Regions from separate parts of the Homo sapiens genome. Here region 1 is linked to region 2. The links come from fine-mapping of genetic effects on plasma protein levels. A gene starts in region 2. The other region holds a variant in brackets. All regions are shown on one strand. Distances are between the middles of the regions.

Evidence for each region. PIP is the chance, under the fine-mapping model, that this variant and not a neighbour inherited with it causes the effect. The UK Biobank Pharma Proteomics Project read protein levels with antibody pairs (Olink). The fine-mapping took linkage between variants from a reference panel, not from the people measured, so its PIPs are less certain.
Region 1: its variant is fine-mapped to the plasma level of the ENTPD5 protein (UK Biobank, PIP above 0.99).

The regions. Positions count from the first base shown.
Region 1 is chr14:74,202,334-74,218,623 of GRCh38, reverse strand. It overlaps LOC105370564 (a long non-coding RNA gene), which reads left to right and starts at 860. Exons shown (of 3, transcript XR_944025.3): 1 at 860-1,044; 2 at 3,867-3,978; 3 at 9,673-9,763. RefSeq lists a silencer at 16,251-16,290. The variant GTC/C (reference allele first, on the strand shown) is at 7,558.
Region 2 is chr14:74,010,644-74,026,933 of GRCh38, reverse strand. It overlaps ENTPD5 (ectonucleoside triphosphate diphosphohydrolase 5 (inactive)), which reads left to right and starts at 7,646. Exons shown (of 16, transcript NM_001249.5): 1 at 7,646-7,684; 2 at 11,004-11,110; 3 at 15,784-15,843. BBOF1 (basal body orientation factor 1) reads right to left here and starts at 7,585. Exons shown (of 12, transcript NM_025057.3): 1 at 7,400-7,585; 2 at 3,790-4,018. The coding sequence starts at 7,455. RefSeq lists enhancers at 4,834-5,128, 4,894-5,188 and silencers at 7,469-7,718, 7,749-7,818, 7,829-7,968, 8,009-8,078, 7,994-8,288.

The DNA.
Region 1 (16,290 bases), 190 kb before region 2:
AGAGCTTGAGGGGCAAGGTCTGCCTGTGCCTGGGGCTGGCATGGGCTGGCAGGGAGGCCCTTGGACCATTCCCAGAGGGAGACAGGGGATTAAGGGGGGTTAGGGAGGTGGTCCCAGAGGGTCCATGCAGAGTAATGGGATTAGCTCTTGGGCAGTGAGTGAAAGTTATTATCGTGTGGGGCCTCTGGCCTCCCACCCAAGGCTGCAGCTGTCACCCATCCTGGGAGGCACCAACAGCCCCCTCCACCCCCACCTTGGGGCAGGCTGGCACCTCTTCTCCCCACAGGCTTTTCTGCTGTGGTCATCTGCCTAGGGGCTGGCCGCCTAGCTTTAGCCTCCTGTCGGTCCTTGGCAGACTGGGCCACCCACACAGTATGCTCTAGACTTGCTCTGTGCCTCGGTTTCCCCTTGAACAGAAAGATACAAGAAGGTGCTTGAGATCCTCTGAGGCATGGGGGTTCGGAGCCAGGCCCCCTGGGTTTCCGGCTCTGCCACGCATTCGCTGTGTGACCCTAGGTACATCTGTCAGCCTCTCTGTGTCCTAATTGGTAAAATGGGGGCAGTAGCAGAGCAGCGTTAGGGTTTTCATAGCGGAGGGCTGGGTAGGGAGCATAGGGTCGGCCTGTTGGTGCTGGGCACCTCCTAGAGGTCGGGGCCGCGGAGGGCTGCGGGCCTAGGGCCTAATGACAAGAAGGGACCAGTCTTGTCGGAGCCTCGCAGCCCCTGCGAGGCGGGTGAAAGGCAGCGCCTGAGCGAAGCCGCAAGCGGGAGACTTCGGAGACGCTCCCGGCTCCCTCTAGCGGTGGCCGCGCGAGTGGCGCGGCGCGAGCGCGATCCCCTCGGGGTGGGAGGAGACCAGAGAGGCAGGTGGCGGTTGCCGGTCCGGGAATCTGGGCCAGTCCGCCTTCCTCCAAGGCATCAGAGGGGAGGGATTTCAAGGGTCCTCAAAGGTTCCCCTTCTTAAGCAATGCATAGCACCCATCCTAGGAGCGTCCGTCCGTTCACTTGTATGTCTGTCCGAATGGAAGTGCCTCCTTGGGCCAGGTGCGGTGGCTCACGCCTATAATCCCAGCACTTTGGGAGGCCAAGGCGGGCAGATCACTTGAGGTCAGGAGTTGGAGACCAGCCTGGCCAACATGGTGAAACCTCGTCTCTACTAAAAAACAAAAAATTAGCCAGGCGTGGTGGCGCATGCCTGTAATCCCAGCTACTTGAGAGGCTGAGGCAGGAGAATCGCTTGAATCGGGGAGGCAGAGGTTGCAATGAGCTGAGGTAGCACCACTGCACTCCAGCCTGAGTGACAGAGTGAGACTCAACTATAAACAAACAAACAAACAAACAAATAAATAAAGGGCCTCCTTGGAGGCCCAACACATCAGGGACATCTCATCCACCGCTTACTCCTCCCAAGCCCAGCAGAGCAGGGAGGGTGGCGGAGCATTTGCCCAGTGTGCACGGCTAATGCCATCCCGTCCACGTGATCAAGTGGTACCTGGAAGAACCTGACAAGGCAGCTCCAGACTAAGGACAAGTCAACCCCTTTTCTAGCCTGTTTCCTCATGGTGAACTGACAGGGTGGGACTAGGTCAGTAGTTCCACCTTTTCACTCGGAAGAGCCCCATCACCCCGTTTTTTAGAGACAGGGTCTTGCTTTGTCACCCAGGCTGGAGTACAGTGGTGCCTCCACAGCTCACTGCAGCCTCGACCTCCTGGGCTCAAGTGATCCTCCTGCCTTGGCCTCCCAAAGTGCTGTGATTACCGGCGTAAGCCACCGCACCCGGCCCAGGGAGGCACTTCCATTCGGACAGACATACAAGCTAATGGACAGACGCTCCTAGGTGTGAGCCACTGCACCCGGCCAACTTTTACGTAATTTTAAAGAGAAGAAAAAAGTTCACATTCATGCAGTGGAATACTGTGCTGCTATTCCACATTCAATCTCCAAGACAGTATTTATTTATTTTTTTTTAGACGGAGTTTCGCTTTTGTTGCCCAGGCTGGAGTGCAATGGCGCAATCTCGGCTCACTGCAACCTCCACCTCCCGGGTTCAAGCTATTCTCCTGCCTTAGCTTCCTGAGTAGCTGGGATTACAGGCATGTGCCACCACGCCAGGCTAATTTTGTATTTTTAGTAGAGATGGGGTTTCTCCATGTTGGTCAGGCTGGTCTCGAACTCCTGACCTCAGGTGATCCACCCGCCTTGGCCTCCCAAAGTGCTGGGATTACAGGCATGAGCCACTGCGCCCGGCTGACGGTATTATTTTTAAAAAAGGAAGATGGACAGTACGTTTTATTTCACTTGTGAAAATGAAATATGTATATACATATAAATATTTTTTAATTTCTGGAAAAGTGTATGAAAAACTGGTTACTGGTTGGTTGTGGGAAACAGAATCAGATGGCTGGAGGGCAGGGGAGTGAGGGAAGCCTGTGGTTTCCTCTACACCCTTATTTTAGTTTAAAAAATTGTGTGTATATGTATTATCTATTTTGATAAATAATTCATTAAACATAACAGTATATACAGGTGTAACATATTCACGGAATCTCTTACCACTCCTGTCAGCACACAGTAGGCACTTAATAAGTGCTAGCTTTTTTTTGTTCTTTGTCTCTCCAGAGCATCCATTAATGATTTGTGTTCACCTGACCATCACCCCTTTACAGTGAGCTTAATTAGTAAGGTACAATGTTTGCTAAATGACCGAGACCAAGGAGAGGAAAGATGTTTCCAAGCTTTCATGGCGGCGAGGCTAAGGGTCTCTGTTACCACAGGAGATAGGGAAAGGTCTTCCTGTGCCAGGGCTGAAGTAGTGGGTACAGATTACAAGGGGCGGCTAGGGTGGGGTGAGGGGACAGATCTGGCATGGGAGTGGTGGCCTTTGACAGTCAGTGGGAGCGCAGAGCTGTCCAGGTGGCCCCCAGCCTCACCCTGCCCTGTGCCGAGGAGAGCGGGAACTCTGTTCAGCCTCCCAGGACCATGGCTGGGGGCATGAACTCAGTGCCCAGGGGCTGCCTGGAGACCCCCCTTGCTTTAGGCCCTGCAGTCCCAAGACCCAAGGGGCCCTCTTCTTCTTGGTCTCTAGTTAGAGAACTGTGGTCTTCTCATCTGGTGAGCTCCATATGGCACCAAGGGCACTTTGTGAGTGGGGCTCTGATCCCTGGAAGGTGCTGGGCGATGGGGAGGGAGTGGAGAGGAAGTGGTAGCCAGATAGCCCGGCATCCAGCAACCGTGCGTCCTAGCAGCCCATTCACATTTTTCTTTTCTCTTTCCTGTTTTTTTTTTTTTTTTTTTTGAGACAGTCTCACTCTGTTGTCCAGGCTGGAGTGCAGTGGCACGATCTCAGCTCACTGCAACCTCTGTTTCCCAGGTTCAAGCGATTCTTCTGCCTCAGCGTCCTGCGTAGCTGGGATTACAGGCACCCGCCACCTGGCTAATTTTTGTATTTTTAGTAGAAACAGGGTTTCTCCATGTTGGCCAGGCTGGTCTCGAACTCCTGATCTCAGGTGATCCACTCGCCTCGGCCTCCCAAAGTGCTGGGATTACAGCCATGAGCCACCACGCCTGGCCAGCCCACTCACATTTTTCAAGGGTGCACTACAGGCTTGAGGCCCGGGGGCTCAGAATTTGGGGATACAATACAGCTTCAGCAGTTGTTAGGTGAGGTGGCCCTGGGTCTTAAACCACCCATGTCCACTGTTGCCACTAGTAAAGACATTGAACATTTACCATGTGGCAGGTGCTCCACAAGCATGATCCTACTGAACCCTCACAAAGACCCAGGACAGTGTTTAGAACAAAAAAAATTTTCTTCCCAGGGATGGAAACTGTGGCTCAAAAACATTGTCTCTTTCTGGGTTCACAGAACTCACAAGTGGCCAGGCCAGCATTGGAAGCCAGCTCTGCCTGCCCGCACAGGCCTGGACGCCCAGCCACAACCTGGTGTCCCCTCTGCCCAGCTCTCGCCTTGGCTCTCAGTAAGTGCCTGGAGCTGGTCACCACGCCTTGAAGCTCCGCCCTTCTCCGTGGCCTCCAGTTCCTACCGCCCCACTGCCCCAAAGCTGTCTCACCTGCCTCTAGGCTCTGTACCTCCCTTCCAGTCCACTCAGCTTCCCAGGAGGTCCCCAAGTACCCCAGTGTCTGGGGACAGTGGTGGGCAGAGGGCCCCAGGGCCTCTCAGCTGGGCCCATGGCTGAGCGCTGTGGGGAGGCGGGCGCAGTGCACAGAGCTGATCCTAACCAAGTTTGCCAGCCCAGCTTTTCTCATGGCTCTCACACAATGGTCTGCTTTGTGCCCACCTGCCGATAATGCTTAATTAGGCGAGGAGGTGATTAATTTGAGGTAATTGACAGCTAATTAGAGGCCCACAGGCTCATTAACTTGACATCTTGTCTTCGTGAATTGGCTGAGTAGGGTCAGGTGATGCAAGCCGCTGCTTCTCCCTCCCCAGCTCTCCCGGCCCCTGTAGGCTGAGGCGATCACCTAGGGGAGGGCTGGGCCGACCCAGGAGTTCAGGTGGGGCAGTCCCAAGGCCAAGAGTAGAGGAAGCCAAGGCAGTGAGGGAGGAAGGGTCCGGATGGAGGTGTCTGCCCTGACCTTAAGAGGGAGAGAGTGGGCAGGGAGTGAGGGCTTGTGGGTACTTCAGCAAAGACACGTAAGAGAAGTGGGGTATTAACAGGGCCGGAGGGCGGGAGGGAGAGCTGGTGTCCATGAAGGGAGGAGGGATGAGGGGAAGCAGGTGAGTGGGGCAGCCTGTTGGAACTAAGCATAGGCTGTGAGGTGACACAGACCTGGGGCTGGATCCTAGCTCTGCTACTAACCAGCTAGGTGACTGTGAACCAGTGATTTAATCGCTAAACCTCAGGCTTCTCCGCTGTAGAATGGGAATAATAATGGTACCTGCCTCAGGAGGTTGTCATGAAGAGTCCATGAAGCACCGAAGTAAAGGACAAATCTGTGAATTGAATGAGCAGGGTCAGGCTGAGCAGGATTTGTACCCGGGGGCCTGATGAGTGCTCAATCAAATGTTAACTAGTCCATTAAAATTTTTTAAAATAAAAAGTTAACTATTCTTGGTGGCAGGAAGGAGTGACAAGAAGAGAGAGTGATTGGGTGGAATGGGCCCCAGTGCTGTGGGGAGGCAATGGCAACCCCCTCCCAAGATAAGCCACCGTTACCCTGCAGGACACCTGCAGGCCTGATCACAGTGGCCTGGTGGAAGGTGTGGGGAAAAGACCTTCTTGTTGTTGCCATCTCTTTTGGGCACGGGGCATGCAATTCAGCAATATATATTAAAGTTTAAAATGCATGTGGTCTTTGACCCAGCAATTCCCCTGCTAGTGATATATCCACAGATACCTAAACACAAGGGTATCTGCTCATCACCACATAGTTCGTAGTAGCAGAAGACAGGAAATGACCTGAATGTCCATCACAGGGCCTGGCTAGGTAACTGAAGGCACATCCATATAGTGGAATAGTATGTAGCTGTTACATCTCTAGGTACCAATATGAACAAGATCCAAGATAAAAAAAAAAGCAAGCTGCAGAACAGGTGTAGTTTCCACAAGCTGTTAACTAGTGGTCTGAGGGTTATGGGATGGCAAGAAGATGTATTTTTTCATAATCTGTTCATTTTAAATATAGTTTGTATTTACTACCTTTTCAAAAAGTATTTAAAAAGTCATACTTTTTTTTCCCAAATGAAATCTAACTTGAAATCTGAATTTATAGGCAAAGTGCCTCTGGTTGAACTGGGGGTGGGGGCCCAGTCCTACCCACCTATTTCCTTCCTCCCCTCCGCTACAGGCTCCAAGAGGATCACCTGGAATCCATCATTGTCCACTGGAACTTTCTATGATGATGGAAATGCATGCAGTTCTGCACTGTCGAATACAGTGGTAGTCAGTAGCCATAAGTGGCTACTGAGCACTCAAAATGTGCCTAGCGCAACTAAGAAACTGAATTTATTTTATTTTATTTTATTTTAAAAATAAAGGCTAGTCTCAAACTCCCAACCGCAGGTAATCTGCCCGCCTCAGTCTCCCAAAGTGCTGGGATCACAGGTGTGAGCCACTGCGCCCGGCCTGAAGATCCTTTCTAACAGAATCAGAATTGCACTGATCGGAAGCATGTCAGAGATGCTGGTAGCTCTCTTGGAATCCCAGTTATTTTAGGAAGGAGTGCCTGAATGATCCATGAGTGAAAAAGCCTATCTTTGGCTTTAAGATCAGTGGCCAGTTCCATCTGGGAAGAATTTAAGTGATGAGTTAGGTCACTGGAGGCATCCATTTGGCAACTGTACAATGAACATCTATGATAGGTCAGGCTCTGGAGAAACAGAAACACACATCTGGTCCTCGCTCTTGAGGAGCCCCCAGTCTGGGGACTGATTTCTCAGTAAAGGGTGGGTAGACAAAGGTGCTCCCTCGAAGGAGAGCCCAAGGGTGCAGCATCTGGGCTTGGAGTTTGACTGACAGCCCTCCCCCACATTGAGGTCACGGTGAGTGAGGGCACAGGACAGGGCCCTCCAGCCCTTATGCTCAGTCACTGGTGGAGCATGAGTGGCAGCTGCCAAAGGGACATGTTGACCATCTTCTGTCCTTCTTTCTGACTTCATAGCTTTGAACCCAGGGTGAGTCTGGGATCCTCTAGATTCCCCTATGCTATTGCCCCAAATAGCTTCCATGGGGTGGTTTGAAACATAAAAACCATCAGCTTTCATCAACACTTCCCTCTAGAGGCTCAGAGAACCTTAATTTCTTTTAAGGCACAGCTTACCTAAAGTGTGCAGCCACTAACTGCACAGCTCGATGAATGTTTACACACATACCCTCCTGTGTTAACCAGCACTCAGATCAAGACAGAGAATATTTCCAAAACCCCAGAAGGCTCCCCGGGCCCCTTTTCAGTTAATACCTCCAAGGTTACTACTATTTAGACTTCTATCACATAGATTAGTTCTGCCTGTTCTAGAATTTCATACAGATGGAGTCATACGGTATGTGCCCTTCATTCGTGTTTGGGAGATTCATCCATATTACTGTGTGAAGCGGCATGGTAGTTTGTTCATTCTTTATTGCCAGTTGGCATTCCACATAGAATATACAATCTATCCATTCTCCTGCTGATGGCCTTTGTTCCCCAGTTTTTTACTTGAATGAATAAAGTTGCTATTGTTTTCACACGTGTCTTTTGGTGTCAACTCATTTTTGTTGGGTATAAGTGGAATAGGCAAAGGTATATTCTTTGAATTCTTTTTTTTTTTTTTTTTTTTGAGACAGTCTCACTCTGTTGCCCAGGCTGGAGTGCAGTAGCACAATCATGACTTTCTGCAGCCTCAAACTCCTGGGTTCAAGTGGTTCTCCTGCCTCTGCCTCCCAAGTAGCTGGGACTACAGGTGTGCACCACCATGCCTGACTAATTTAATTTTGGAGAGATGAGGTTTCACTATATTGCCCAGGCTGGTCTTGAACTCCTGGCCCCAAGTGATCCTCCTGCCTCAACTTCCCAAGGTAATGGGATTACAGGTGTGAGCATCATGCTTGCCACCCCCT[GTC/C]TTTTTTTTTGACAGCGTCTCACTCTGTGGCCCAGGCTGGAGTGCAATGCTGCCACCATAGCTCACTGCAGCCTTGAACTCCTGGGCTCAAGCCATCCTTCCGGCACTGCCTCCTGAGCAGCAGGGACTACAGGGATGTACCACTGCGCTGGCTAATTTTATTTAATTAAAAACATTTTTTTTGTAGAGATGGGGTCTCACTATGTTGCCCAAGCTAGTCTCTAGCTCCTGGACTCAAGTAATCCTCCTGCCTCAGCCTCCCAACATGCCGGGATTACTGGTGTGAACCAACGCATCTGGGACACTTGATCCTTTCGACAACCTGGTGAAGTAGTTATTTTCCCCCTTTAACGGAAAAGGAAACTAAGTTCAATAAGGGTAACAATCCTATCCAAGGCCACACCCCAAAGCTATTAAGTAGCAGAAACCACATTAAAACTAGAGTGATCAACGGTCACATGGTCAAGACTGTTATTCCTCCCAGGAAACCCCTGAGTTCCAAGCAAATCAGACGGCTAGTCACCCCAATTCAAACCCGACTGGACTCAAAAATGGAGCTTTTTTTTTGTTTTTTGTTTTTGTTTTTGAGATGGAGTCTCGCTCTGTCACCCAGGCTGGAGTGCAGTGGTGCGATCTCAGCTCATTACAAGCTCCGTCTCCCGGGTTCACGTCATTCTCCTGCCTCAGCCTCCCGAGTAGCTGGGACTACAGGTGCCTGCCACCACGCCCGGCTAATTTTTTGTATTTTTAGTAGAGACGGGGTTTCACTGTGTTAGCCAGGATGGTCTCGATCTCCTGACCTTGTGATCCACCCACCTCAGCCTCCCAAAGTGCTGGGATTACAGGCATGAGCCACCGTGCCCGGCCCCAAAAGTGAGCTCTTAATCATCAGGCTGGGATTTCCTCTGGCCTAAAATTTCACCAGACAGCACATGGTGTTAACATAGACTCAAGGCAGAATATTTTGTCTTCAAAACACTCTTGTGATATAAGGATTTTACTTGTTTTTGTTTTATTTTGAAGAAAGTGATTTCATTTAAAGTAGATCTGAGTTAGGTAAGAATAAAATTATTTATATGAAAAGAATTTTCTAACACATTAATCCATCAAACAAGGATTTATTCAGCACCCATGAGCTGAAAAGAAGTTTAAGGCAGTCCTTGACTTCAAGAAATTAATCATTTACTTAGGGAGCTAAGAGTAAAGCTTAAGGAATAAAATTAGAGGATAATAAACAGTAATAATAATCACCCCATATGTGAGTACTTACTGTGCCCAAGGGGCTTTACCGAGTCTAATTTAATCTTTACAACACAGCTGTGAGATATGTTCTGCTGTTATGCTCATTTCAGACGAGGAAACCAAGACTTGGTGAAGTGAAGTGATTTGGTCAAGGAAAAAAATCATTGAGCTGTTCACTTAAGATTTGTAGATTTAATATAAATGAGTTACGCTCTGATAAATCTTTATTGAATGGGAAACCCTTGAAAATACGGACATTTTTTGCTTTCTCTGCTCTTGAATTTCCTATTCCCCAATAATTTAGTGCAAAATGTTAAAGATGTATTTTGGCTTGTTTCATTTTAGGAAAATAGCAGGTCGGGTCAAAATGGCGCTTTTAGCCTTAATGGCTTGGGTGCAAATAGGCATAGCTTGTGACTGTGAAATCAGAGGTCCTGGGTTGCAGAGGGGTCCTGGAGCTGACACAGGCCAATGGGCCAGTACAACCTGCTTGGTTCCCCAGCTGCATGAACTGTTGGCCCCATGGTCAGTCCTGACCAGAAATGCACAAGGGTATTTGTCCCCTGGGTCCTCAAGGTCAGCTCCTCTGTCTCCCTCCAACACACCCCAAACCTTATCATATCCCTCAACCTCCTGACCCTGCCACCCATCTCTGCTTTTCAGGTTTGCAGGCCCCCACCCAGAGGCACCTTCATCATTCCTCCCTGACGTGTCGACTTTCATTTTCCTAGGACGAGTCTCATTTGACAGTCTCCTGCCCATATTTCTAAGCTCTCTGGGTCTCGTTGTGCTATTTCTCTGTCCTCTCTGGGGTTTGTAACACCAATCATCTGCAGGTTTCATTAGCATGCTGTTTACCCCTGTCTTTCAGATCATTAATGAAGATGTGAAGTGAGACACCAATCCTCACAGCCCCCACCACGTGCTCCCTCCCATGCCTGGCGCTGCTGGAGTCATTATCCTTCCTGGTGTGACAGGGTCAGAACCAAACCAATTTGCATCAGTCTTTGGTGATGTTGTGAAGCGTCGCCTGCCCTGCAATCCTGCTGCTGTAACAACTGCTTCAGCTGTCTGTTCTGGAGTGCTCTTCGCTCCTTTGGAAGACTGATCAGATCTGGCCACCCCAGTTCTGGCTGAAAGCCCTAGAGCGACCGCAATGGTAGGGCAGGATTCAGGGCTACACATGGCTGACATTGTTCCTTCTTCGTTTTGCTCTTCTGAGCTGGACAGAAAGCAGTCCCTCTTTGGAAAACAGGATGGACAAGTGCATACATTAGTGGAGGACGCAGCAGATGTGGCAGGCATAGAATTTTACTCATTGCTCCATCTATTTCTATCAAGGAAAATGGGGAGTGCTCCCAATTTCCGCCCATTTTCTAGCCCAGGCCTAGTCAGATGTGTGGGCTTGTATATTCTGGGAACCTGGGGCTGATGTGGTCAAGTCACTTCTTGGGGACAAGGTCAATTCTTCTCCATTTTCTCATGTCATTTGGTCCTGAGGGTTTTATATCTTCTTTAGCAATTCCATGACTATGCTTCTCATCCTGCAGGGAAACTGACTTTATATACACACTTGTCTCCCAATAAAAGTGAGAACCACCTCCTACATATCCCTTGTGTCTTCCAGACTCCAACTCAGATGAAATGCACTTCCTTCTCTTTCCTGATTGTGCAGCGCCTCCAACTGGTTGTTTGTGATGAAAACATGAGTATAATTACAGACTCTTCTCTGACCCATTTCTACTCCTGACCCCCAACTCATCTTTTCTTCCTTCTCTCCAATTGGGAAGGGGAAGGGAAGCAAGGAGAAAGTAGCGAAGGAAACTCTCGCAAACACATCTGAAGTAAGATGCTGCATGTCCAAGAGCTGGGGGAAACTTAACGCTACGACTCTACAGCAAAGTTAGGTGAGACATATTTTCTCAGGGTAGGTAAGGAAAGACTGAGGAAAAAGATAGCTATTTGGCAACACTGAACACCTACTGACTGAATGATTTTTTTCTGCTCCTGGGCAAAGGCTCTGAGGAGTGTGGGGAGAGATGGGACTGTCATGAATAGGGAACAAGTTTTTTTTTTCCACATTACATGCAATGAGGTAGAGATCCTAGGGTATAGCTGGATGCTTATTAGGTGCTCAGTAAACACTTATTGGTGTACAGATTGATATACATTTGCATACTAAAGAACAAATTTCATTACCATATACAAAGGTTATCGATGAACTATGTATGTATGCACATGTGTGCAGGATAACAGGCTGAGCTGAGAAGCAGGGCTTTTAAAATCTGTATATCCGGCCCCAGAGGCTTTTTTCTCCCTGTATTATAAAATCAATACCTGTTTCCGTAGAGAGTTTGGAAAATGTAGAAGAAAACAACAATACCCCATATTCCTCCAACCAGGCAGCAAGCACTATTACCACCTTCGCCTATTGCCTTCCATTCACCACCCCACTGTAATTGTTATATCTGGCCATTTCACTTATCCTTATGACAAAACCATTTCTTCCATGATATCATAACCTCTTTGCAAACACACCAAATGGCTGCATGGCAGTTCGCTACGGGAATGTACCATGATTTACTCAACAGCTGCACATCTGAACAGCCTTTGGGCCACTTGAAGGCAGAGGCAGCAGCAGCAGAGGTGGATGGCGGGAAGTAGGAGGCCAAGGTGAAGCAGCTCGCAGGACCTTGCTTCCCCATGAGCCCCCCGACCACCATTCCTCAGAGATCATTTCTGGTTCCAATCCTCACATATCCTTCATGGGTCCTGCCACAGCCAGCACTTCTCATTTCTACTCAGCCTCAAGTCACTGACTTTCCCAACTTGACTCTTCTCAGCTGCTCCTTTGTGTGAAGTCACTGGCTCAGGCCAGCTTGGCTCCTGGGGCTTGGCTGCGTCCAGAAAGGCCCTGGGATGTGACCTTCAGCCTCGCTTGACCCTGAGGCCTCAGGCTGCAGTCAGGCGAGGGTCTCTCCATGGGCTCCCAGAGAAGGCAAAGCCCAGAGGAGGCTGCTGCGGGAGCAGAAGCCTGAGTGGACCCTGCTTAGTCCTGGAAAGGGACCTGACAGGTTTGCGAGAACCTGACAAATCTCACACCATAGAAAACTATCTGGCCCAGGCACAGTGGCTCATCCCAATACTTTGGGAGGCGGAGGTGGGCGGATCACTTGAGCCCAGGAGTTCGAGACCAGCCTGGGCAACATGGCGAAACCCCATCTCTGCAAAAAATACAAAAATTAGCCAGATGTGGTGGCACGTGCTTGTGGTCCCAACTACTTTGGAGGCTGAGGCAGGAGGACTGCTTGAGCCCAGAAGGCAGAGGTTGCAGCGAGCTGAGATCGTGCCACTGCACTCTAGCCTTGGTGACAGAGGGAGACCCTGTCTCACCAAAAAAAGGAAGGAAGGAAGGGAGGGAGGGAGGGAGGCAGGGAGGGGGGAGGGGGAGGAGTGGGGGAAGGAGGGAAGGGAAGGGAAGGGAAAGGAAAAAGAAAACTATCTGGAGGAATGTGGAGGACTGGTGGGTTAGGGGTAGGAGGTTATGACTGAATCAAACAGGGAAGTGTGTTCCTGTGCAGTGATTGGAAAAGCATGGATGCTCAGAAAATACTAGGACTACAAAGATTAGCAAAGTACAGTGATTTGAGGCTTATGTATGCCAAGTTCAGTATCAGTTCAGAAACTTGCCAATGTCACAAAGTATACCTTTCCCTCCCTTGCTTAATGCCACTGTCTGTAGAGTCAACAATGGTTTCTACTGAGTGTCCATGCTGGCACAGGGCCTCAGTGGGTGGAAGGATGGGGGTAGGAGAAATAGTAAACTGTCAGCTCTTCTGAAGGGTTACAGAAATGGTATTCTGCTTAACTGACTAGTCAAGGTAACCAGAAGTTACTATATTTTCCCTATAGGGATTGCCAATGTTTTTTTTGTTTGTCGTTTGTTTTTGTGTGAGACAGTCTCACTCTGTCACCCAGTGTGGAGTGCAGTGGTGCAATCTCAGATCACTGCAACTTCTGCCTCCCAGGTTCAAGCAATTCCCTTCCCTCAGCCTCCTGAGTAGCTGGGAGTACAGGCACCTGCCACCCTGCACAGCTAAATTTTTTTGTATTTTTTCATTTTTTTTTTATAGTAGAGACGGGGTTTTGCCATGTTGGCCAGGCTGGTCTTGAACTCCTGACTTCAAGTGATCCACCCGCCTCAGCCTCCCAAAGTGCTGGGATTACAGGTGTGAGCCACCATGTCCGGCCTAGGGATTGTCAATTTTTAACAAATGTGAGTATAATAAAAAATTAAATACTACATGGAATCTGTTTTATAGATCTATCCATCAAGCAATTATATACGTAATGGGTAAGATATGCCATGCACCATTCTCAACACTTTGCAATACTCGTTTAATCTCTACAGCTACCCTAGTAGTTAGGTGCTATTTGCACCCAGGCAGCCTGACTTCAGAGCCTGTGCCCTTATCCATGATGCTGATATGACTCTTTAAAGTGGAAAAAGTCCTAAGGAAACCAAGGCTTAGAGAGAAGTAACTTACACAAGATCACCCCTGCCTCTCTCTCAAAATCCAAGCACTTACTATATCTTAGACCAGCAATGAGGCTATGAACACCGAATGTCAAGGCACAGTTCATTCTTTCAACAAATGCTTATTTTAGCACCTATTATGTGCCAGGTAGTTCTGTTTATAACCAAAGAAACTGTAGGAAATTGAACAAATTTGGATCAATTCTTTGGCATGTCCCAAAAGTTATTTTTAAAAGTCAAATCTTATCATTATCCTCTCTGTGCCTCAGAAAACTGAAGGTAGAAAAACAATGCAACTCTGATTACTTGAGTTTTTTGGCTCCTCAGATTCTACATAACTGAATCTCCTTTGGTATTGGAGGTCACTTTCAGAAACATCAGGTATAGAGATCGAGACAGAAAGCAGAGGGCAAGAGAGAGATGAAAATATGTGAGCCCAATTCTGCTCCGAACTTGGGTTTAATTGAGATTCCAACTGCCACTCTCCCCTGCATTCCTTTGTCCCTGGCTATGACCAAGTTTACGGCTGTATCGCCCCAAGTAATCCCCGTAATGGGCTGCAATCCTGGGGGAGCTGTTTTTGTTCATTAAGTGACCAACCTCTGAGCCACATGGAGCGCGGCCAGTTACAGCTTCTTGCCCTGGCAGATGGGCCACTTTTCTGTTTTAAAAAAACAGGGATCTTTCAGGAGAGAGGAGATAGTAGGCAGGGGTTGGGGACACAATCAGGGACATAAAGGTGATGGGTGCTAGAAATGAAGGCCAGAGTGAGGGGGGCAGTGGGTGCCCCTTCCAGGTCATGCAGTCTTCTAGGGCAGAATTCACTCACGTGCTGTGTGTTAGCTTTCTTTGCAATGGTAACTATAGTTGTGTAGGGCTTACAGTTTGTGAAGGGCTCAATGTAGTTCCTGGAGTGATGCTACCAGTCTGCAGAGGTGGGAGGAGTGAGGGGGCCATAGACAGGAGGCAGCGAATGAACAGAGTAGGGCAAATAGCTGAGAGGGGGCTTCCCCTGAGGGTCAGAAATTCTCAGTGCTTCAGACTCCAGCTCAAGTGACAGGGGCCAGGCTGTGCCAAGAGCAGTTCTCTCAAGCCAACTGACTCTTACCTCTCTGCCCACAGCCCCAGTGTCTGCTTCTTGAAGTTGGGGAAACATTGCAGCAGCTGCTTGTTGGGAGACCCGTCCCCTCACTGCACTGCCCCACCCCCTCCCCGCCACCTGCCCCACCACCCCATGTCTGTCCTCTGGGTAGAGTTGTGTGAAGCGGAAGACAATTTGGGGCTTATTAGTGTCCCAGGGAGACATGTAACTTGTGTTGCTGGGACCCAAACAGCAAGAGTCTTAGCGGCAAACTCCAGCCGAGAAAAGACTGAGGAATTGTCTCACCTAATTACAGGGAATGGCCCTCTTTGTGTTTGTGATTCGGTACGGTTGTCCGATCGCTTTTGATCGCTTTTCTCTATTTGCTGGCTCAGGCCATGCTGGAATTGTGCTAATTAGAAGAGAAATGGACAGAGTGATCCTGTCAGCCCTGGTTACTGGTGGGGACAAAGCAGAATATTATTCTGAGGCAGTGTTTTGTGAGGGCCCTTCTTCCAGCTCTCATTAGGAGGAAGGGGCCCACAGGAGGGGAAGGTTCCAAATGCCTGGCCCAGCTAATGGAGCACTGGGGTGTTTCTGTGCTAATTAACAGGCTTTGCCAGCACTCACGCCAACCAGGAGCCTCACAGTTACACCTGGTATCGTCTGAAGCCCCCAGCTGCTCGAGAGGAAAAAGCGCCAGGCAAAGGGTGGGAAGGCCAGTGGCCTCTTTAGGCATAGACAAGGACACACACCCCAAATGCCAAAAAGCCTACATAGATAGGAAAAATCAGTTCCAGTCCATCAGAACTTACAACCGTGGAGACACCACCCTTTGCCACTCTCTGGGGTTGGGGGTTGCAAGACTCTCTGGTGAAACAAAGCCCACATAGGGACCAGGTATCCTTGTAGCTCTCACGAGATGAAGAAAACAGAAAATGGAGAACATAACCAAATTCTTGGAGACGGAGTTAGTGCAGAAGCTGAGAACTGGTAAGAGACTGTGTTATTTGGCTTCTGCGACCATCCACCTTGGCCCAACTGTCCATTTCCTCACTTCCTGCTCTGCCTGTTCACCTTCTTGTGATGTCTTAATCCTGGAGGAAACAGGAGGGGTCAGGGAATCCCACTGGAAATGAAATTTCTCGGCTTCATTTCAAAGCTCCTGTGGAAGTCCAAACACACTTCTGAAGCCACAGGGACAAGGGAATGACTTTCATCAGTTCCATTTTCACTGCCTTGATCTGGGAGCATCCAGAAGAGCAGCTAGAGAACTAAAACCACGGAGCAGTTAGCAAGCATCCATTTAAAAAATATGACAAAAATGGAAAGATAAAAATGAATGATGGCATTTCAATATCAACACAATTAATACCCTGTGAACTTTAAGTGTTCTAACCTATGGAAGGCAGGCCAAGCAAATCAGCAGAGGCCTAGAATCTGTGAGACTGAAGACAGCAAGAAATAATGAGAGTGCTGGTAAGAAAAAAATGTCAATAAGAATTTGCAAATGTGTCTCCAAGCTCCAATACTATGCTTTTCAGAATGTTGCTGCTCACAGCTGACAGATGCTTTACAGGATGGTATTTGGAATGGCAAAGGAAAAGGGAAAAAATATCTGTAGGCAAATAATAAACAATTACTTACCGTAAAAATAGTCTCTAAAGACTTAGAACACTCCTAACACTGTCCCTACTTAGTCAATCAGCCATGCTTTTCTAGATCACAGAAATCTACTGTTCATCCAGATGTCTTTTTTGGAAATAAATGATGGGCCTATGATGAGAAGCAATTTGCTTTCCTTAAAATGAAATGCTTTCTTTAAAAGGGCATATTCTGGTCCAGAGCAGGTAAACTATCAATGAGTGATA
Region 2 (16,290 bases):
TTTCCTTTTGAGATGGAGTCTCACTCTGTCCCTGAGGGTGGAGTGCAGTGGCGCAATCTCAGCTCACTGCAACCTCCACCTCCTGGGTTCAAGCGATTCTCCTGTCTCAGCTTCCTGAGTAGCTGGGATTACAGGTGCACACTACCACACCCGGCTAATTTTTGTATTTTTAGTAGAGACAGGGTTCTGCCATGTTGGCCAGTCTAGTCTTGAACTCCTGACCTCAGGTGATCTGCCCACCTCGGCCTCCCAAAGTTCTGGGATTACAGGTGTGAGCCACTGCACCCAGCCATTTTTGCTATTATTTATTAGGTTGGTGCAAAAGCAATTGTGGTTTTTGCCATTCTTTTAATGCACCAACCTAATATTTTGATTGTCCCAGATTTGGCCAATGGAAGCCCCTTCAAACAAGGCCATGTCCTTTAAAATTTTTTATTTTCTGGCACAATAACATATTCCAGACTCTTTTTTTTTTTTTTTTTTTTTTTTGAGATGGAGTTTCACTCTTGTTGCCCAGGCTGGAGTGCAAAATGGCATGATCTTGGCTCACTGCAACCTCCGCCTCCTGTGTTCAAATGATTCTCCTGCCTCAGCCTCCTGAGTAGCTGGAATTACAGGTGCCCACCACCACACCTGGCTAATTTTTGTATTTTCAGTAGAGATGGGGTTTCGTCATGTTGGCCAGGCTGGTCTCAAACTGCTGACCTCAGTAATCCACCCGCCTTGGACTCCCAAAGTGCTGGGATTACAGGCATGAGCCACCGCCCCCAGTCTCTCTCTTTTTTTTTTTTTTGAGACAGAGTCTCACTCTGTTGCCCAGGCTTGACTGCAGTGGCACAATCTTGGCTCACTGCAACCTCTGCCACCTGGGTTCAAGCAATTCTCGTGCCTCAACCTCCCAAGCAGCTGGGACTGCAGACACGCACCACCATGCCTAGCTAATTCTTTGTATTTCTAGTAGAGATGGGGTTTCACTCTGTTGGCCAGGATGGTCTCAAACTCCTGGCCTCATGTGATGCACCCCCCCCACCCCGCCACTCAGCCTCCCAAAGTGCTGGGATTACAGGCATGGGCCACCATGAACAGCCCAGCCTCATGTTTTATATTCCCTGTTCCAGTCCTGAAATCAACCATTTCTCCAAGGAATGCTGGTTTGTTTTAGAAGGGAATCTGAGTAGCTTTTTAAACTAAAGACTTGTTGACATGGTTGTTGACACAAGTGAGATACTATGTACAATGTTTTAGACCACCTTAGGAAAAAATCTAGATATTCTAAAAAATAAACTGGGACAATCCTAAATCACATAAAACTGGTGTGACATTTAATGAGATTATTCTGTGATTAATTCAGTACAGCATTAAATTCTCTTAAGGGGAATCTCCTAATTTTGTTCATAATAAAATAGTTTTCAAAACACATTTCATTTCTATTATTTCTATAATTAACATGACTATAAACAGTTTAAACAAAGTTTAACAACATAACATTTTTCTAGTATATAGCAAAATGAGTAACAAAACTATGGGAAAGCTAGTTAATGAGGATATATTTAGTCTACTTTGTTTCTTCCTCCCAAGGTTGTTTCTTTTGGTTTAATGGCAATCCATGATTATAAAAATTACCCACCTGTTACTGCCAGATGCTGCCCTTTGATATAAGGAGGCAGATGAGAATCAGGAAGTACAAGTGATACTGATGTAGACCAATAACAATGAGCTATTACAAGCCACAAAACAAAGCATCTAAGTAACACATTTGGAAATTATTTCTATGGTTGACTAAAAAAACTTACTTTAGAACAATACTTTATAGAGGGCAATTTAATAATACCTACTATTAAAAGAGTAATTTTAAAAATAAAAATTGGCCAGGTTTTGTGGCTCATGCATGTAATCCCAACACTTTGGGAGGGTGAGGTGGGCGGATCACTCAAGGCCAGGAGTTCCAGATCAGCCTGGCCAACAACATGCCAAAACCCCGTCCCTACTAAAAATACAAAAAATAAAATAAAATAAAGATAGAAATTTCTGGACCAGGTGCTATTGCTCATGCCTGTAATGTCAGCACTTTGGGAGGCTAAGTTGGGAGGATTTCTTGAGCCCAGGAGTTCGAGGCTAGCCTGGGCGACATGGCGAAATCCCATCTCCACAAAAACTACAAAAAAATCAGCCAGGCATGGTGGCTCATGCTTGCAATCCCAGCACTTTGGGAGGCCAACGCGGGTGGATCACTTGAGCTCAGGAGTTCAAGACCAGCCTGGGCAACATGGCGAAACCCTGTCTCTACCAAAAATACAAAAAATTAGCCAGGCATGGAGGTGCGTGCCTGTAGTCCCAGCTACTTGGAAGACTGAGGCAGGAGGATCATCTGAGCCCGGATGTCGATCCTGTGGTGAGCCGTGATCATACCACTGCACTCTAGACCAGGCAATAGAGAGAGACCCTGTCTCAAAAATAATAATAAAGTAATAATAATATGAGACAGAGTTTTGCTCTGATGTCCAGGTTGGACTGCCGTGACATGACCATGGCTCACTGCAGCTTCAACTTCCTGGGCTTAAGTGATCCTCCCGCCTTAGCCTCCCGAGTAGCTGGGACTACAGGTGCACACTGCCACGCCTGGCTATTTTTTACTTTGTGTAGAGACTGGGTCTTGCTTTGTTCCCCAGGCTGGTCCTGAACTCCTAAGCTAAGTTATCCTCCAGCCTCTTCCTCCCAAAGTGTTGGGATTATAGGCATGAGCTACCACACCCAGCCTGAATTTCCACTTTTAACACCCACTAGGGGTGTGACTTTGGGCAAGTTACCTGTCCTTTCTGAAAGTCAATTTCTTCATCTGTAATATGGAAATAACAATATTATAGCTACATGGGGTCATAAAAATAATTAAATAGGAGGTTAGTAAAAGAATCAAGAGAGGTAAAGCACCCAGTATAGTACATTGTAGTGGCTCCAAAATGTTAGTTCCCTTCCCTTTTTCTTTTCTTTTCTTTTTTTTTTTTTTTTTTGAGATGGAGTCTCTCGCTCTGTCGCCCAGGCTGCCAGGCTGGAGTGTAATGGTATGATCTCAGCTCGCTGCAACCTCTGCCTCCCGGGTTCAAGCAATTCTCCTGCCTCAGCCTCCCGAGTAGCTGGGACTATAGGCACATGCAGCCATGCCCGGTTAATTTTTTGTATTTTAGTAGAGACGGGGTTTCACTGTGTTGCCCAGGCTGGTCACGAACTCCTGGGCTCAGGCAATCTGCCCACCTCAGCCTCCCAAAGTGGTGGGATTACAGGCGTGAGCCACCACACCCGGCCTCCTTTTTTCTTCCAAATATAAAATGATAGCTTTACTCTCAACACTTTAATAAGGTACAATAAGATACAAGATTCAACTGGCCAAAAATAAAAATAAAGATTCAACTTGCTGGGTTCAGAAAGTTATCATGGATTATCAGTGAACTGCTTTACAAATTTTTAAAACTAAAAATCAGCATCAAAAAATATATAGATCACATACCATGCTCTTATCCTTAAAATAAAGTAGATCATAAAGTTCCCTTATGATCATCAATCTCTGTTTGCTTCAGACAAGAAAACATGCAACAAGGATTGAAAATAAAAGAGAGCCGATAACAGTAAAACCATTCTGAAAAAGTGTCTTGCTTCAAACAGAGTTAAGGTCAATTGAAATGTCTTAAGTATATGTTAAGATTTCAAGGAATTAAAAATCTTTGAAATACATAACCACATCAGCATCACCATAGAGGTAGTTAATGAGGCCAAGGAGGCTTTCTACCTACCTACCATATTATCTTTCTCCTGATCCTGCTTCTTCAGGTAACTTAATACTGACATTATGTCTTTCTCCATTTTACATTGCTTTTTCTTTAAGTCCTCATTACTTTTTGCCAGTATCCGTGAAGTATCACGATACTTAATCCTAGAGAGTTCTGTGACTTCCAACCTGGCCTCCCAAAGGGAGGCATTGGCCTTGGCTCTGTCCACCACAGATTCATCTGTTTTTATTAACTTCCTGCATGGGAAGAGGATATTGACAGTATATGACTATTTATACAACTCTAATATGCAGATAGTATATAACTCTATTATATTACTATTAAATTTTTCTCTTTTTTTATTTGTTTTGCTTGGCATTGCCTGGCACACATGATCAAATATTGTTGGAAGAATAAGTTAATAAGAAATACATATTCACATTTGAAAAAAGAAAAAAAAAGAAATACATATTCACTTGTATTCACATAAGATAATTAAGTAAGTGCCTCTTCCTGGAGGAGGGGAGTCCTGGAGCATAACTCGAAAAGACTGGTAAAACAAAGGGAAAAGACAGGATAAGCCAAACTCATTTCAGAAAGCTTTCATATCTTTTTTTTTTCTTTTTGAAACTGGGCCTGGCTGTGTCACCGGGCTGGAGTGCAGTAGCACGATCTCGGCTCCCCAGAACCTCTGCCTCTTGGGCTCAAGCCATCCACCCACCTCAGCCTCCCAAGTGGCTGGGACTACAGGTTCATGCAACTATGCCCAGCTAATTTTTGTACTTTTTGTAGAAATGAGTTTTTGCCATGTTGCCCAGGCTGGTCTTGAACTCCTGGGCTCAAGTGATCCTCCTACCTCAGCCTCCGAAAGTGCTGAGATTACAGGTGTGAGCCACTGCGCTTGGGCAGTTTTTATACCTTTTCATTTACTTATTTGATTCTCCCATATTTATTTTTTTTTTAATAGAGATGGGGTCCCACTATGTTGCCTATGCTGGTCTCCAACTTCTGGGCTCAAGTATCCTCCCACCTTGGCCTCTCAACGTGCTGAGATTACAGGTGTGAACCAGTGCCCTAGCCTGATTCTCCTGTAGTTAAACTATCTTTTCTATTCCTACTCACTCAGTGCTGGACTTTGGTTCTCTCCACTGCAAACCCATTATCTCTGTTCAGTTTCTGCATGATGATACCCATTGGTAGTATAACTGTGATCTCCCACCCACTTTACCCTCCACTTTTGAGTGTGTTTTTTTTTTTTCTGGGGGAGGGACGGAGTCTCACTCTTTCACCCAGGCTGAAGAGCAGTGGCGTGATCTCGGCTCACTGCAAGCTCCGCCTCCCAGGTTCATGCCATTCTCCTGCCTCAGCCTCCCGAGTAGCTGGGACTACAGGAGCCCGCCACCAGGCCCGGCTAATTTTTTGTATTTTCAGTAGAGACGGGGTTTCACCGTGTTAGCCAGGATGGTGTTTTTGTTTTGTTTTGTTTTGGGCTAGGTCTTGGACAAAAAGTCAAGTCACTAGGGCAAATACGTTAAATAGTTTATCAGCTGGTGCCACAGTTCACCGGACTTTTTTTTTTTTTTTGAAACAAGATCTTGCTCTGTCATCCAGGCTGTAGTGCAGTAGCACCATCACAGCTCACTGCAGCCTCAACCTCCCAGGCCCAAACGATCCTCCACCTCAGCCTCCTAAGTAACTGTGACTACAGGCATGAGTTAGCATGCCCAACTAATTTTTAATAAAAATTTTTGTAGAGACAGGGTCTTCCTATGTTGTTCAGGCTGGTCTTGAACTCCTGGGCTCAAGTGATCTTCCCCTGCTCAGCCTCCCAAAGTGCTGGGCATGAGCCACGATGCCCCACCCACCGGGCTTTAAGGATGCCTGAGAAACCATAATCATTTATATAGAGGTGGAGAGGAAAAAGGATGGATTCAAAGATTAAAGTGGTAAAGGAAGAGATTTTTCTAAATATTTATTGTATAAGCATTAACAAAACACTCCCCCTTATATATGGTAGGTACCATGATATATAAATATGTACATATTTAAGAATATTTCACCTGTATTTGAATTCTAAATATTTTCACACATATGTACATGTGGACCTTTCTATACTGCCACCCTCCACATCCACTTTCCTACCTCTGGTTCTCAGTCCTCTTCCACAGAGGTAATGGGTTTGCAGTGGAGAGAACCAAAGTCCCACTTTCACCTTTTGTTCTCTTCAAATTAAGGCCAGCTCCATTCCCAACCCCTCAGCCTGTTATAGCTGTTGATGTCCCTTTCTGGCATGATTTAGGCACTAGTGATACACTGTCTCACTACGACCATCCAGGTATCAGGTCTGAGTGGCTCGAAGTACTTGATGCGACAGGGCATGGTGGCTCACGGCTGTCATCCCAGCACTTTGGGAGGCCGAGGCGGGTGGATCACCTGAAGTCAGGAGTTCGAGACCAGCCTGGCCAACATGGTGAAACCCTGTCTCCACTAAAAATAAAAAAATTAGCTGGGCGTGGTGACGGGTGCCTGTAATCACAGCTACTCGGGAGGCTGAGGCAGGAGAATTGGTTGAACCCAGAAGGCAGAGGTTGCAGTGAGCTGAGATCGTGCCATTGCACTCCGGCTTGGGCAACAAGAGCAAAACTTGGTGTCAAGAAAAAAAAAAAAGTACTTGATGCAAGAAATTAGACACTCTAATAGGACCACTGATACTCACTGTAGAAACAAAGCCAGGTTTCTCAAACAATGGGTCATGGAAAATCCAAGGAATAAGGTCTCTTACCCTTAGTGTTCCTCATTGTTCAAATGTGTACTGTAGAAGCATGGTCAAAATCTGAAAACATATGTTAGTGAGTTCTAGGAATGTGATAAGCCCTTGGCACTTTAAGGGCTAGACTAACTGTGCAGTTATGTAAAAACAAAAAAAAAATACCATAAAAGAATACTTACATTAACAAATGGGAAGAAAAAAGCCACATATAAGTATGTACATTGGGCTATCGTTTTATTAAAAAAGAATACTCCAAAATATAGTAGTGTTTATTTTTGGATAATGAGACTACAGGTGATTTTTGTTTTTTCTTTTGGTACTTCCCATGTTTCCCAAACTTTCTGTATTGAGCATGAATTACTCTCTTAAGTTACTTTACAAACATCTCAAGTTTGGTGCCAACTCTGTGTTCCCATATATGGTGTTGTTGCTGGACACCACGTATGACTCCAACGTGTCCAGAAACCACCGGGGTCCCCCAATAGGGCTAGTAGCAATCTAGCAGCAACTCCAGGCCTGTAAGGGGTTAGTGCTAGAACATTACCCACCTCAGTGGCTCTGATCAGTTTGGGAAAACCTCAATAATTATCCAACTTGGTAAAATACTTTAGGTGTCCCCTTTGAACCAAAAGAGATCTCTGAAAAGGCCCAAGGAACTACTTTATACATCCTCTACACGTTTAAGATAATCTGAACACATAGTAGAGATCTGCCAGACTATGGACATGGGAGCTGTAATCCTCACAAGCCGGGAGAGCCGGGGAGAGGGTCCGAGTGGGCCGGCGCGGGGGGCGCCAGGTTGCCAGCCCCAGACCCGAAATCCCAGGCAGGCCCAGGGAGAGGGGACTCTCGGGTGGCTTCTCCTTACTTCGTGTCTTTGCCTTTGCTCTTGCCTTTCTTTTTGTCCTTTCCCTTCGACGGCATCTTGGCTTCCCCAGGGGCTCCGCTGTCGTAGTTGCCCAGCCGCGGCCGCCCTGGCCAGCTCTGTCTCCAAGGGAACCGGGACGCCGAGCTGGCAATGCCCCACCCGCGCCGCTGACGGCGCGCGGAGAGCGCACGCGCCCGTGACGTAGCCCAGGCGCCGCGGCGCGCGGGGTGGGGCGGAGGTCGCGCCGAGGGCGGCGGGCTGCCGCGCAAGGGTGGCGCGCGCGCGGTGAGTGTGCGAGTGTCGGCGGCGCCGGATCCTCTACGTGGGGCCCGGGCTCTGCGGGCGGGAGGCGGGAGCTGGCAGCCCCAGGCGGTAGCGCTTCGTCCTGCGGCCTGGGTGTGTCAGGAGTCGCTGCGGTCGGGGCGCCCTTGCCTCAGGAGACTTAGATCCCCGCTGATCCGCCCGTCCCGCCGCAGTGGTCTGAGCCGCAGCCCTTTCCCGTGCCGCCCGCGGGTCCCGTTCCTCCCGTGTCTCCATGCCGCAGCCAGCGTGGCCGCGGCTACCTTGCCCTCGCCCCCGCTCCGCTTCTGCCGCTCCCGGCACTGCCTTACTCCTTTGGGTTGCATCTCTTTCCTGGCTTTTCACCCTTGCTGATTCTGTAAGGGATAGTGCAGCCAGCGGACGTCCCAGGCCAAATGTTTTTTGATAGGCAGTCGAGGACTTTCCCGAGGGCGGTGGTTGAGGGCGAGGCTGCCAGCCTCCGAAGAGCAGCGGCACGCCAGGGAGCCGGGCGGGGAGGGGAGTGCTGCCACCGAGGTCGGGAGCAGGGTCCTCGGCCTCACTAGGTCCTGTGTGGCCGATACTTCCTGCCCACGACCGCCCCCCGGATTTCCATTTGCTAATACCGGTCCGCAGCCTTCTTTCCTGAAAGTTGCATAAAGTTGGAAGCTCTTCAACTTGCCTCCCCGACTCCTGAAATCCCGAATACACCTCTGAAAAGGAGTGTACTCACAAGTATTCTCATTTTTCAATGAGAGTCAGTCAGTGAGTCATTAAGGAAGGTACGGTATTCTGAGTGCCAAGCCAATAGTTAGGAGACTTGTGGTTGAAGCTCTGCTCTGTTATACTCCATTTCAAATTAAAAAGTTTATTTTAAATGTGGTTGTAGATCCTTCGTCACCATTTCTCTAGGGAGGACTTAATCCGTACACTCCTTCCCGATGTCTTTGACCTCTAATTACTCCCCTCCGCCTTGTTTCCCACTTGCATAGTTTCTGTTTCTGAATTTCTGTTTCTTCTGAGGGAACATGCCGATTTGGTAATGATAAGCCTTGTAAACTTTTTTTTTTTTTTTTCTGAGAGAGAGTCTTCTGTCACCCAGGCTGGAGTGCAGTGGGGCATCTCGGCTCCCTGCAACCTCCACCTCCTTGGTTCAAGCGATTCTCCTGCCTCAGCCTCCCCAGTAAGTGGGACTACAGGTGCATGCCACCACACCCGGCTAATTTTTGTATTTTTGGTAGAGATGGAGTTTCACCATGCTGGCCAGGCTGGTCTCGAACTCCTGGCCTCAGGTGATCCACCTGCCTCGGCCTCCCAAAGTGTTGAGATTACAGGCGTGGGCCACCGCCCCGGCTGTAAACCTTTTTTTTGAGACAAGAGTTTTGCTCTTGTTGCCTAGGCTGGAGTGCAATGGCGCAATCTCGGCTCACCACAACCTCTGCCTCCCGGGTTCAAGCAATTCTCCTGCCTCAGCCTCCCCAGTAACAGACTATAGGTGCGTGCCACCATGCCAGGCTAATTTTTGTATTTTTGGTAGAGACAGAGTTTCACCATGCTAGCCAGGCTGGTCTTGAACTCCTGGCCTCAGGTGATCCACCCGCCTTGGTCTCCCAAAGTGTTGAGATTTACAGGCATGAGCCACCGCCCCCGGCTGTAAAATTTTTTTTTTTTTTTTTTGAGACAGAGTTTTGCTCTTGTTGCCCAGGCTGGAGTGCAATGGCACGATCTCGGCTCACCGCAACCTCCACCTCCCAGTTCAAGCGATTCTCCTGCCTCAGCCTCCCGAGTAGCTGGGATTACAGGCACACACCACCATCCCTGGCTAATTTTGTATTTTTAGTAGAGACAGGGTTTCTCCATGTTGGTCAGGCTGGCGTAAACCTTATTATACATACCATCTGCCAGCATGATCATGGCTTTTTCTTTTCTTTTTTTTTGAGATGGAGTTTCGCTCTTGTTTCCCAGGCTGGAGTGCAATAGCACGATCTCGGCCCACCGCAGCCTCCACCTCCCAGGTTCAAGCAATTCTCCTGCCTCAGCCTCCCGAGTAGCTGGGAATCCAGGCATGCGCCACCATGCCCGGCTACTTTTGTAATTTTAGTAGACACGGGGTTTCTCCATTTTGGTCAGGCTAGTCTCGAACTTCCAACCTCAGGTGATCCGCCCGCCTCGGCCTACCAAAGTACTGGGATTACAGGCGTGAGCCACCACGCCTGGCCGATCATAGCTTTTTCTGAGTGTATTTCTGGTATACTTTCACACTCCCGTGAGTCCATAGGCGGAATCGCCATATATTGAAGAGTTTATCTCTGATGTAAAATCTATAAAGTTACCATTAATTTTGTATGTGTAAGGTTCTGAAAAAGCACACTGTTGATAAGCTGCAGAAAAGAGAGTAGGGCATCTTCTGTCACAGGCTGTATATTTGGAATTTATTCTAGAAATTGGTAACTTTATAATATGAAAGTCAGTCCAAGACTCCTCATTTGAACATAGGCTTACAGATTAATGTATGAACATAAAAATTTGACTATAACAAGATTATTAATGTATGCGTAGTACCTTAGTTATAGTACTTTATAGTTTCTTTTATTGGTTTTTGGGTTTTTTGATGGTTTTTTTGAGATAGGGTCTTACTCTTAACCATGCTGGAGTACAGTGGCAGGATCATGGCTCATTACAGCTTCGACCTCCTGGACTTAAGTGATCCTCCCACCTCAGCCTCTGGCATAGCTGGGACTGTAGGCATGCACCACCATGCCTGGCTAATTTTGTATTTTTTGTAGAGACAGGGTTTTGCCATGTTGCCTAGGCTGGTCTTGAACTCCTGAGCTCAGGTGATCCTCCTGCCTTGGCCTCCCAAAGTGCTGGGATTACAGGCATGAGTCGCCACACTTGGCCTAGTTTATTTTATTGTATTATATATATTTTTTATTGACTAAGTTTGATTTTGTAGATAAAGCTGTTGTGACATGAATATGGCTCAGGGAAATGCCAAGATTTCATACTCTGGTAGAGGTGGATATAGAGTCTACATTCTTCTGAATCCCCTCATTTTCTACCAAAGAACTGGATGTTGTTACTGTCATCTGCTGGTGAGCAACAACTGATAGTACAGATAGTAGAGTAGGAAGTTGCTATTTAGTAGTTTATCTGGTAGCATTTCCTTCCACAGTTACTGGTAGGTGCCTTTACTATGAAGTTCCAGGAATTATTACTAAATAAATTTTCCTTGTTTCATTGTTTAGAACACTAATGCTTTTAAACTTGGAATAAGCCACTTCATGTTTTGTTGACTTGGTTTTGTAATTCTTTTTCTGTCCAGTTTTCCTTGTTCCTGGTCAACAAAGAAATGTGGAGTGTCTTGGCTGAATCCTCATACAGACAAGATCATTATGGTGCTGTTAGGTAGGACTTGTATCCAGATGTAAGGTAATATCTCCACTAGCTTAAATTTATAAATGTATTTCAAATGTTCCTGAATGGTGGTTTTCTTTTTTTCCTGAATTTAATTCTCTGTTTTTTGCCAAGTGATGTTAATTTTGTCCAACAAGCCATATATAAAATTTAGAACTATTATGTATCAAAATAGATAGAATTTCTGGCTGGTCATGGTGGTTCATGCCTGTAATCCTAACACTTTGGGAGGCCAAGGCAGACGGATTGCTTAAGCCCAGGAGTTCAAGACCAGTCTGGACAACATGGCAAAACCCTGTCTTTACAAAAAATACAAAAATTAGCTGGGTGTGGTGGCCATGTACCTGTAGTTCCAGCTACTCAGGAGGCTGAGTTCAGAGGATCACCTGAGCCCAGGGAGATCATGGCTGCAGTGAGCCGTGCCACTGTATTCCAGCCTGAGCAATGGTGTGACTGTTTCTCAAAAAAAAAAGGGGGGGCGGGGGGTGGGTAGTACTTCTGCTTTTTTCTTCTAGTAGGTCCAAAACTGGGTTTACTTTATAAATTCATCTATAACTTTATTCGGGTTTACCTTAGAGGCCATGTTTCCCTTCATAAATCATTCTTGAGATCACCTTATAGCAGATGGTACTTTATAGGTGGATCAGTCTAAGTGAACAACTTTAGATTTTGTTTCTACATAGCCTTTAGAATCCTGAATAAATATATTATTATCCAAACTGTTTCTTATGGGAGTTACTTTCTTTTTTTTTTTTTTTGAGAGGTAGTCTTGCTCTGTCGCCCAGGCTGGAGTGCAGTGGCACAATCTTGTCTCACTTCAACTCTGCCTCCCAGGTTCAAGCAATTCTCCTGCCTCAGCCTCCCGAGTAGCTGGGATTACAGATGCCTGCCACCATGCCCGGCTAATTTTTGTATTTTAGTAGAGACAGGGTTTCACCCCCATGTTGGCCAGGCCGGTCTTGAACTCCTCACTTCAAGTGATCTGCCTGCCTCGGCTTCCCAAAGTGCTGAGATTACAGGCTTGAGCCACCACACCTGGCCAGGAGTTACTTTCATCCTGCTTTTTTATTGCATGTGCTGCAAATATAGAATTCTACTAAATTGACATTTTCTCGTGATATTAAGACTAGTTCACATCTCTGCAGGGGCATTTTAAGAAATCCTGGCGGTCAAGGATTTAATCTTATCACTTTTAGATAAATTTTTAAAAATTTAAAACATTCAATGTTTTACTTATATACAAGATATGTTACCACAGATAATTATTTGTTTATTTATTTGTTAATGAATGACAGGGTCTCACTATGTCACCCAGGCTGGAGTGCAGTGGTGCAATCATGACTCACTGCAGCCTTAACCTTCTGGGGTCAAGCAATTCTCCCATGTCAGTCTCCTGAGTAGCTAGGAGCACAGGCTTGTGCCACCATGCCCAGCTAACTTTTTTTTGTGGGGGGGGGGAGTAAAGACTGGATCTCACTCTGTTGCTACTGGGCTCAAATGGTTCTCCTACCTCAGGCCCCCAAAGTGCTGGAATTATAGTTGTGAGCCACTATGCTTGGCCATATATTTTTGAAATGGGGTTTTGTTATGTTGTCCAGGCTGAACTTAAGCTCCTGAGCTCAAGAGATCCTCCTACTTCAGCTTCCCAAGTAGTTGGGACTACAGGCGTGCACCACTATGCCTACAAATAATCATTAACTACTGTTCCTTTATTTGCAAAATATCCCATTTTTATTAGTTGTCCATCCCAACAGAGCCACAGACTAAAAGTTCTCTAAGAAAACTTACCTGGACTGGGCACAGTGACTCACATCTATAATCCTAGCATTTTGGGAGGCCGAGGTAGGAGGATTGCTTGAGCCTAGGATTTTGAGACCGGCCTGGACAACATAACAAGACCCTGTCTCTATTTTTTAAAAAAAGCAATGAAAAATTACCTAAGTTTTAGGCCCACTTGTCTGCATTTTTATGTCATGGATCTGTCAAATGTTCATTCATTTAAGAAACATTTAATGAATACCAACTGTATAACAGCCTGTCTGATAACTTCATGGGTACAGTAAGGAACAAGAGAAGGCCCTTGCCCTCAAATTGTTTACAGTCAGATGTATAAAGCTCTGACCTGGATGTTGATCTCTGAGAATATACAACCTTATTGTCACCCATACACAAACACTTAACAGTAAACAGTACCAAGCAGGGATTGATAAAGGAGAGATGGTGTAGACCAGGGGTGTTCAATCTTTTGGCTTCCTTGGGCTACATTGGAAGAAGAAGAATTGTCTTGGGTCACACATAAAATATACTAACACTAATGATGGCTGATGAGCTTAAAAAAAAATCACAAAAAAAGATCTCATAATATTTTAAGAAAGTTTACAAATTTGTGTTGGGCTGCATTCAAAACCATCCTGGGCTACATGCGGCCCATGGGCTGTGGGTTTTGACTAAGCTTGGCCCAAACCCTAGGTGCTATAGAATTTGGAGGCATTTAAGACTGTCGTAGTCAGGGAAAGTTTATAGAAGGAGATGGACTGAAAGGAGAGGGAAGTTCCTCTGGGAAGTTAGAACAATGTGAGCACAATTCAGAGTATGCTTAAAATAGGGAGTAGTTTAACTCTAGCATTGGTTCCTAAAGTGTGGTCCACAGACCGGTAACATCAGCTTCACCTGGTAACTTATTAGAACTACAGTTTCACAGGCCCCACCTGAGACCTACTGATTCAGAAATACTGGCAATGAGGCCCAGCAGTCTATGCCCTCCAGGTGGTTCTGATGCGTGCTAAAGTTTCAGAACCACTAGACTAGAGCAGAGGGTTATTGTATGGAACAAGTAGGCAAAACACTCTAAAAAGGTAGGCTGGGAACTCATTGTGAATGACTTAGAATGTCAGACAGGGAGTTTGTCTTTTATCCTGCAGACTAGAGGCCCCAGCTTGTGACTTGAGGGCTGGACTTGGCTCATAGAATGTGTTTCGTTTGGCCTGAATGGTAGGTTTTTGGGGGTTTTTAAATGGAATTAGTTGTCATCATTTAAAAATCAGCAGATTTTACAAAGAAATCTGTGCTTTCAGCTTACCTTGAAAAATCAGAAGACCTGGCAGTATGGAGCCTACATTCCATTATGGTAGCAGTTGGTGGGAATAGCAAGAAGCTGCCCCTTTAGATGGGACACATGCTCTCCAGTTTACTGCAATCCCCACCGGTTCCTTTTGTCTTACACACACCTTTACTCATTTATATTTCCTGCCTGGTGCCTGTAGGTGTTTGAGTTTGTAACTTCTGTTGTGGACAGTGGGACATTAATGAAAATTTTGAGAAGCAGAGTGATGAGATTTATGTATTTGTTAATTTATTTAACAAACATTAATTAAACATATATGCCAGATTGTACTCTGTTAAGTAATCAGTGTTCAAAGATGAATGAGTCCCAGCTGGGACCGGTGGCTCATGCCTATAATCCCAGCACTTTAGGAGGCGAAGTCTGGTGGATCACTTGAGGTCAGGAGTTCAAGACCAGCCTGGCCAACATAATGAAACCCCCCCCTCTCTACTAAAAATAAAAAATTAGCCGGGGATGGTGGTGGGCACGTGTAATCCCAGCTACTTGGGAGGCTGAGGTGGGAGAATTGCTTGAACCCAGGAGGCGGAGGTTGCAGTGAGCCGAGATCATGCCATTGCACTCCAGCCTGGATGACAGAGTGAGACTCCATCTCAAAAAAATAAAAATAAATAAAATACATGTTTACTTTGGAGACCTTATAGTTAGAATTTATAACATGGGTTGCGTGAGTCAAATCCATAATTCAAATCCTGTCTTGAATGTGTAATCTTCAGATTTATGTTGCATAGGTAAGTTTAACTTTTTTGTTCCTGAGGGAATAGAAAATAATATATAAACTCAAATTCTTAAGTGATTCTTTCACCTCAGCCTCCCAAAGTGCTGGGAGTATAGGCATGAGCCACCAAGCCCCCATCTGCTTGGTCCCTTTTAACCACATACTCGTGCATGTAATAGTAAGTAGCCACTCATTGATCATACTGTGGAACATATGGCTGACATTTTAACAGCAAAAAAAGACCTCACATCTCGGCTCACTGCAACCTCGACTTCCCATATTCAAGCAATCCTCCTGTCTCAGCCTCCCAAGTAGCTGGGACTACAGGCACATGCCACCACACCTGGCTAATTTTTTTTATATTTTGTAGAGATGGAGTTTCGCCACATTGCCCAGGTTGGTCACAAACTCCTGAGCTCAAGCTGTCTGCCTGCCTTGACTTCCCAAAATGCTAGGATTATAGGCGTGAGTTGCTGCGCCCAGTCTGTGTACTTTACTTATGAATTAGCTCCTTGGTCATTGCCTTCTCCACCTTTACACACACATATACACCAGCTTCTAGAGGGAGTGTGACTTGCTTCTCTTGCTGTTGGTGACTTTTTAAATGAGCTGGATGTGTGGTAAAGTGGCTGAGGTTGTAGTTTGAGTGAGAAGAAAGTGTAGGGGAGCAGAAAGAGCTGAAGGGCATTAGACTACAACTCAGGAGATGAGCTTGGTGATCTGGGTTCCAAAGCCTGAAAAGATTAGAAATGAAAATGTGGAAGAGATAACTGAGTCAAAAGTAGGCATACTGACAGCAGAGAAAAAGAGGAAACTGTTCTTATAATTATTCATGTCCATCTTACACAGGTTGAAAAAGTGATATAATAAAGGAACCAAGGAGAAAATTCAGAAGGAAAGAAAAAATTGGTAAGTAACATATATAAGTAATACTTCACTTTTTCATAGGTCAGATTTCTGCAAATTCTGCTTTGTTGTTCCTAGCTGAGAGCTCACAGTAGATGGAAAAGGGTCCATAAGGCACTGAAAGAGCTGTCACAAAGTGCAGTACCCTTATTCTGTTGGAGAGGTCTTCATTTGCTTATGTTGACATGAAATTCTAATAATTATGGCTTCCTGATTTACATCCTACAACAGATTTAAAAAGAAAATTAGGAGGTAATGGTGGTTTATTGAAGGAGCTGGGCACATGACAGTACTGATCAGTGAAAATATATAGCATGATGTCAGAAAAAACTAGCTCAAAAAGGATAGCAATCTGGGACCATTTGGTGACAGAAGGGCAAACAGTCCTGTAGACCTACTGTAGCCCTTGGAGGCATCTCAGGTTTACAGGAAAATATAACTGATAATCAT